2 linked regions of the Homo sapiens genome follow. The protein of the gene in region 2 interacts with the protein of the main gene of each other region in a pairwise test. Each region holds a gene or a part of one and is shown on either strand. Other genes may lie near its edges.

Evidence for each region.
Region 1: the proteins of ZCCHC7 (region 2) and CARD9 interact in binary tests that used the Homo sapiens proteins (3 or more experiments, as listed by UniProt).

The regions. Positions count from the first base shown.
Region 1 is NC_000009.12:136,363,357-136,367,169, forward strand, and holds the end of CARD9 (caspase recruitment domain-containing protein 9), read right to left. Parts: intron 3,490-3,813; coding exon 3,444-3,489; intron 1,862-3,443; coding exon 1,785-1,861; intron 1,204-1,784; coding exon 1,127-1,203; intron 1,046-1,126; coding exon 946-1,045; 3' UTR 807-945; coding exon of another isoform or gene 769-806; 3' UTR 600-768; downstream 1-599. Other genes in the region: DNLZ (DNL-type zinc finger protein), read right to left, coding at 131-358. UniProt on the Homo sapiens protein: Adapter protein that plays a key role in innate immune response against fungi by forming signaling complexes downstream of C-type lectin receptors.
Region 2 is NC_000009.12:37,305,514-37,309,326, reverse strand, and holds part of ZCCHC7 (zinc finger CCHC domain-containing protein 7), read right to left. Parts: intron 3,784-3,813; coding exon 3,613-3,783; intron 1-3,612.

The sequences.
Region 1 (3,813 bases), about 99 Mb from region 2:
AGGGGTGGCTCCACTCCTTCCTGTGACTTGACCACGCCGCCTCCCGGATCCCCGGCGGGCCGCTTCTCCCCGCAGGCCGTGTAGCGTCAGATACGGGTCTGTCCCCGGTTCCGTCCCGCCGCGCGCCTACCTTGCAGGTGTAGACGAGCTGGTAGTGCGCCGCCTCCACGCGCCCCAGAGCCGCCGCGGGCCCCGGCCCCTGCTCGGAGCTTGAGCGCCGCCAGCCCCAGGCCCAGGCCCGCCGCCTCCCCGCGACCTCTGGACGGGCCCCGCGGCCCCACAGCCGCCTCAGGCAGGGCGCCCGGGGCTGCACGCGACTCAGCAACCTCGGCGCGCCGCGCAGCGCAGTCCGCAGCATCCCGCTCGCCGGCTCCGTCCGCCCTGCCCCGGCCCCGCCCCGCCGCCATCTTGGAAGTGGGCGCCGGGCGGAAGCGGCGTTCTTGGGCTTCCGTCTTCCGGGTCGGGGGCGCGCTGCGCTATGCCGCCCCCTGGCGGCCTGAGGGGGCCCTGCGTCCACGTGCAGCTCGCACCCCGAGGACACCGCGGGCCGCAGCGAGGAGGGACGGCCGCGGGGCTGCGCGCGAGTGTCCGAGCGGGAATGCGGGTCACCCGTGCTGTTTATTTACGCAGCTGTGTTTTCTAACACTAATACAATGCATGCATGTATTGTGTGTTACATGGTGAAACAGAACAGATCCTGAAGTTACACAGATGGCGTGTGCATGGGGGTGGTGAGCACCCGCATGGCCTCCGCAAAATGAGTGCCGCTTAACAAACGGCCCCAATGCCCGGCAGTCCGGCTGGGCCTTTCAGGGCACCAGATTCCTCGTTCCAGGCCAAGTCAGCGACGGCTCGGGGAAGTCTGCGCCCCAGGGCGTCGGCACCCCCGGGTGGCAGGAGGCCGGGCCGGTGGGTGTGCCCTGGTCGGGGCCTGCGCTGCTGCGGCTAGGAGCCCTCAGTGTCGGTGTTGTCGCTGCCCGTGGTGTTCTCCCGGTCCTCCTCCCCCTGCCGCCATCCTTTCTGCATCTTCCTGAGGGCGCGCTTCCTGTGAAGACAGGTGTCTCAGGCGCGACCCGGCTGCCGCTCCCCAGCCCGTTTTGGAGAAGCCTGGGGGCCGCCCGCCTACCTGCGGTAGTTCTCAAAACTCTCTTTGAGGCGCCGCCGCTCCTTCTCGGGCGGCTCCCCGCTGCTCAGGCCTGCGTCCTGGAGAAGGGGGAAGGCTCGGGCTCCGGCCGGCTCCCCTGAGGGAACCCGTCCTTCTCACCCGCCCCCCACTGGCCCCTGTAACTGCAGACTGGTTGGGAGGCGAGGAGCCCAGACAGCCTCAGCTCAGCGCCAAGCTCTCCCTGTGGGACCTGCCTGTACCCCTGGAGGTGAGCCGGTGTGGGTAGCCTGCATTTCAGATGCCAAGACACACCCAGGAGGCCAAGCCACGGCTCCAGCCTGGGGTCCGGGCCATTGTTTCTACAACAAAGCCCGAGGTGGTGCTTGCTCTCAGGACTCCTGTGTTCACCTCCTCATCCACTGTAAAGGCCCTCGGAAAACCAGGACCAGGCACATCCACGTCCAAAAAGCCCCCCAAGCTGCTGCAGTGCCCAAGAAAGGGGGATCCACTTCGCAGCCCAGACACCGCACCCCGAGCACTGTGGGCAGAGACCTTGTGGTCACTCCTCAGCTGTCGTCGGGGCCACCGCAGGGGGTGCCCAGGGCAGGGAGCCACTCTCCCTGTGATCGGTCACCCTGAGGCCCACGGCTGGGAGGACCCCACCCCGGGGAAGCCTTACATGGGGGTTCCGCAAAACCTGCTCCTGGTGCAGAGCTGCAAAGGGCTGTTTCGGGCTCCCCCCGCCGGCAAGGCAGCCTGGAAAGGAGAGTCGTGCCTGTGGGACCTGCCCATCTGCTGGGCCACGTATAGCACGGCTGCCCCACCCCTCCCCGGCATTGCAGTGGGGCTGTCTTCCAAGGCCTGGTGGGATCCCCACATGGGTCCAGTGTAGACTCTGCTTTCTGTAGATGAGACTGAGGCCTTATGGCCTCGCTTGCCTGTTCATTGCTCCAGGAGGCCGCCAGATGCCAGCCCAGGCCCAACGCTCCCGCCAGTGACCATCCCTCCCCCGAGCTGGCTGCCTGCCAGGGAGGAACGCCTCCCAGACCTCGGGGGAACTTAAACCCTGGGCCTGAGCAGCACCGTCCCCCATCACTCCAAAGCATCTGTGGGCATGGCGGCCCTGGGGAGAGAGTTGGGGACAGCTACAGTGGCTGTCTGGGTCCTCCTGAAGTGGGGGCAGGGGTACTGCAGCAATTGGGAGAGAACCTTCAGGCGGCTGGACCCCCTCAGAAACCGCCAGGACCTGGGCAGACCAGGGATCAGGACCCTTGGGCAGAAACCACGCACGTCCAGTCTCAGCCCCACTGCGGTGAGGGCCAGGCCAGGGCTGTCCTGGCCATTGGCAGCCCCTTAGAGCCAGCCCCTCCCCTGCTCACCCTCCAACCTTCACACCTGCCCCTGCTCCTGCCACAGCCACCCAGGGGGATGGGGGCAGTGCCTGAGCCGGACTCCTGGGTCCTGCTCGCCTCTGTGCCTACATGGGGGCTTGGCATCCCCATGTTCAAGTGTTCTGAGCTGCAGCCAAAGGCGCTGGTCTTCACTTCCCCGTCTGCGGCTCCTCCTTCCCCTTCCGCCTCTGCTTGGAGGCCACGGCCTGGTACTCAGGAAGCTTGTCCAACTCCGGTGCAGCCTCCCAGGACCCCTCTGCTGGGCCCTCCCCAACCCCTACCTGACAGCACCTTCAGTGCAAACACCTACCTCATCACCACTGCCCACTCCTGGACACTCGGGAGCTGCTCCCAGCTAGCCACCCAGTCCTTCCCCCAGACAGGCAGAGGGGGCCTGCCCTGCCCGCTAGAAGCCCCTGCCACTGCCTTACCCCCACTGCACCGGGACACAGCAGGCCCTTGGCCACCCCTGCATTCAGCCCTTTCCCTCAAGCCACGTGGGGCCCCATCTCGCCCCATCTTCTAGCTTCATGCACCTGGTCGTTCGCTCGTTACCACCTCCCTCTGTCCAGGAGGAAGCTTGGAGCAGCCAGGACTGGGCCTGCTCACCTCTGCACCCCGTGGGGGCTGCCCAGAGGGGCCCCACACTCTCAGGACGGTGGGCCTGCTCACCTCTGCAGCCCATGGGGGCTGCCCAGACCCCCACACTCTCCACCCCAGGGGACACTTGTCCCACTAGCTGGGGCCCTGGGTTCCAGCTGGGCTCTGTAGTTTGTTCTCTAGGTGACCTTGACCATTTTACTTATCCCCAGCCCCAGTTTCCCTGTCTGTGGAGTGGGGGTTGTGGGGGTTGACACAGGCATTGCGGCACGGGCTGCCTGTGCTGAAGATGGGCCTCACTTGGGGAAGCTGGGAGGCCTCTGGGTGTACTGCTGTCCCCACCTCACCTTTGTCTGAGAGCTGGGTGTCCTCCAGGTCCTGGGGGAGTGAGAGCTTCCAAAGAGAGTCAAGATGTCCCATTAGGCCACTTCGCCAAGGACTGGACCCGGCCACACTGCCCACCCCAGCCCTTGGCCCTCAGCTGGGTGCAGCCATTGCCGTCACCCCCTGCACAGAGCTTCTCAGAGACTCAGGTGCCCAGCAGACGGACATTGGGCGGCCAGGAGGTGGGCACTGTCCGTGCCTTACCTTACCCCTTGAGCCATCAGAGGCCTTAGCATTTGGCCACCTGCTCTTCCTCCACCCAGCCCAGCCCACCGAGCAGGGCCATGTGACGGGCAGTGTGGGGCTATGCCTGGTGGCAGCTCAGCCAGGACC
Region 2 (3,813 bases):
CTAAAGCATGTACAGTTCCAACAACATGGGGCCAGAATGACTCGGCTTCCATGTGAATTCTCATGAAGTTTCTGGGGTGGTGGAAGGACTATGAGCCTTGCCACAAGGAGTCAGTAGAGCCCAGGCTTGACTGGGCTGCGAGGGAATCCTACACCAGGTGTGTAGGCTACAAAGACCAGCTTCCAGAACCTTCGCCATGTAATTACAACAAATATAGTAGATACTGGTAGATTTGGGGAAAAGAGTACTGCCTTCTCTGAAGCTGGTCACAGCCCAACCCTATTTTATTTTATTTTTTGAGATAGGCTCTCACTATGTTGCCCAGGCTGTTTTTTTTTTTTTTTTTGGATACAGACTTTCACTCTGTTGCCAGGCTGGAGTGCAGTGGCATGATCTTGGCTCACTGCAACCTCTGCCTCCCAGGTTCAAGCGATTCTCCTGCTTCAGCCTCCTGAGTAGCTGGGACTACAGGTGTGTACCACCACGCCCAGCTAATTTTTGTATTTTTAGTAAAGACTGGGTTTCACACCATGCTGGCCAGGATGGTCTCGATCTCTTGACCTCGTGATCCACCTGCCTCGGCCTCCCAAAGTGCTAGGATTACAAGTGTGAGCCACCAGGTTTTAAACTCCTGGGATTAAGAGATCCTCCTGCATTAGCCTCCTGAGCAGCTGATATTACAGGAGCATACCATGATTTTAATCTTATTTAAAAAAACCTACATTCATTGGGATTATTAATTCTCATTTTAGATAATAATTTAACATATATTAGAGGCCAAAATCAAGAAGTTAAGAGGAATGGCCTATAGAATTAACACAGATGATTATATAACCTTTTACAAGTAATTTTTAACTGTTCTGTAGTACAGTTTCTTGTTTTTAAAAAATTGCCTATGATAATGTCTTACTCCCCTTCTTTATCACAGGCAAATAAGACCATATTTGTCAGAGCTCTTTGGAAGAAAACAGTAAAAAAAAAACAGATGCTATTAAAGATAACTGCCAAACTAGAAAATCTTGCTAAGAAAATTATAATTGACAACTTAATGCAGACAACAACATAATGCTAGGACAATTCAGGATTTATCATTTTTAAGACTTGGTAAACACTAAAAAATAAGACTAAAGTACTTTGGAATGAAATGACAACTTCTATCTATATAGCCTTGAGAATAGAGTATTCAAATTAATTAACCATATACCACTTTATTAATAACCAAAGAAATACAAATTAAAACAATAAAATATCATTTTTTGGTCTGACCAGCCAAAAATTTTAAAGACTGATAATACTTAATGTTGATGAGTGCAGTGCTCATTTCTCTTAACACTGCTGGTAGGTAGATACATTGGTACAATCTTTTAGAAGAGCAATTTGACAATACTTATCCAGACATAAGTGTACGTCTTTTAATTTCACAATTCCATTTATAAAATATGACTTACCAAAACATTATTAAATGCACCACTGTTTGTTTAAAAAATGGGTAACAATTTAAGTATAAATTTGCTGGTGGAATTACAATAAATAATTGTCATGTTATTTACATGAGAAATACATATATATACCAAACACTCATACTCTAATCTGTTTTAATCTGAAATTCATTTCAACAGAAAGCCATACTAATTTATTGAGCAAAAGATTATAGGTGTATTTCAGACATGCATTAAAAAGGGCTGTAAGAAAAAAGACTATAGGTGTATTTCAATATAAATAAAATTAGAAAAATATTTCTGCTTTCGTATCATGACTTTGGGGAAGTACATATTAAAGTACTTTTATTATTTTAAAAAATAGGTAAGTAATGCTTTAAAAAAGAGAATGAGAGACACCCCTTTCATAAATACCCCTTAAATCAATTAGAATTGCCACTTAGGTATGAGGATGAAAAATGACTTTGTACTGATTAGCTGTTAATATAAAATAAACATATGTTACTATGTAGTAAGAAACGCAATTAAGACCTAAAATGAAAGACTCTTAATGAGACACTCATTAGGAATTAGGGTAAACTGAATGTAGAAAACTACATATTCCACATCAAAGCTGTATTTGCTTATTTCAACAGCCCTCTGGTCTTTGAAATTATGACTAAACTCCATATACATTTACAACAATACAATGCAAATAGTGTCCAAAACAGCATTTTTAATATGCTGCAATTTAAAGTAATGGCTGCCTTGTCCTTCTTTCCTTAGACTATTAGACCAGCAAAATCATTGATAAGAAGAATCAGGCCAGGTGTGGTGGCTCACACCTGTAATCCTAGCACTTTGGGAGGCTGAAATGGGTGGATCACCTGAGGTCAGGAGTTCGAGACCAGCTTGACCATGGTGAAACCCTGCTGTCTACTAAATATACAAAAATTAGCCAGGCATGGTGGTGGGCGCCTGTAATCCCAGCTACTTGGGAGGCTGAGGCAGGAGAATCACTTGAACCTGGGAGGCAGAGGTTGCAGTGAGCCAAGATCATGCCACTGCACTCTAGCCACCGTGACAGAGCGAGACCCTGTCTCCAAAAAAAAAAAAAAAAAAAAAAAAAAAAAAAAAAAAAAAAAAGGTCGGGTACAGTGGCTCATGCCTGTAATCCCAGCACTTTGGGAGGCCGAGGCGGGCGGATCATGAGGTCAGGAGATCGAGACCATCCTGGCCAACGTGGTGAAACCCCGTATCTACTAAAAATAAAAAATTAGCCAGGTGTGGTGGCACGTGCCTGTAATCCCAGCTACTCGGGAGGCTGAGGCAGGAGAATCGCTTGAACCCAGGAGTTGGAGGTTGCAGTTAGCTGAGATCACGCCACTGCACTCCAGCCTGGGCAACAGAGCGAGACTCCATCTCAAAAAATAAATAAATAAAATAAAAATAAAAAAAGAAGCATCAAAATAGGCTTCCATTAAACATCTGTATATAACTGCTAATTGTGCATATATTTTCATTTAAATATGCACAAATAGGCCAGGTGCAGTGGCTCACGCCTGCAATCCCAGCACTTTAGGAGGCTGAGGCGGGCAGATCACCTAAGGTCAGGAGTTCGAGACCAGCATGGCCAACATGGTGAAACCCCCGTCTCTACTAAAAATACAAAAATTAGCCAGGAGTGTTGGCATGCTCCTGTAGCCCCAGCTACTCGGGAGGCTGAGGCAGGAGAATCGCTGGAACCCGGGAGGCAGAAGTTGCAATGAGCCGAGATTGCACCACCGCACTCCAGCCTGGGTGACAGAGTGAGACTATGTCTCAAAAAATAAATAAATAAATAAATAAATATGAATACACAAATTTTACATGTTATTTATTACCTCTTTAAATTCAGCCTTTATTTAACAAGCTTATAAAGAAAAAGGGCTAGAATGGGCTTAAAATATTTATTAATGCTATCTCTTGATGCTGTCTTCTGATTCAGTAGGCTCCTTACCCCTATATTATTTAGAGCACTGCTTTATATACATGTTCAGTGACAAAATGGACATGACTATATATATATATATATATCTCACGGAGTAAACATTCCTTTAGGTATGCTGACTGATAGTTATAAACTTGCACATTAATTACAAACTTGCACACTCCCTCCAAAGCCTGACAAATTAGTTATATGCAGGATACTCACATCTGTATAGTGGCCTAGCATATGACATCGGTCACACTGTTTATCCCAGGAATGTCTGAAAAGACATGAGTGGTCCAACATCTTAGGCACAGGACAGTATTCGCAAAGGGGGGCTGGACAGGAATACAGGAGATGTCCTCTCCTGGAGCACAGGAAGCAGCGACGAACTTTCTATGTGGCGAAAAAAACATAAAATCTCTT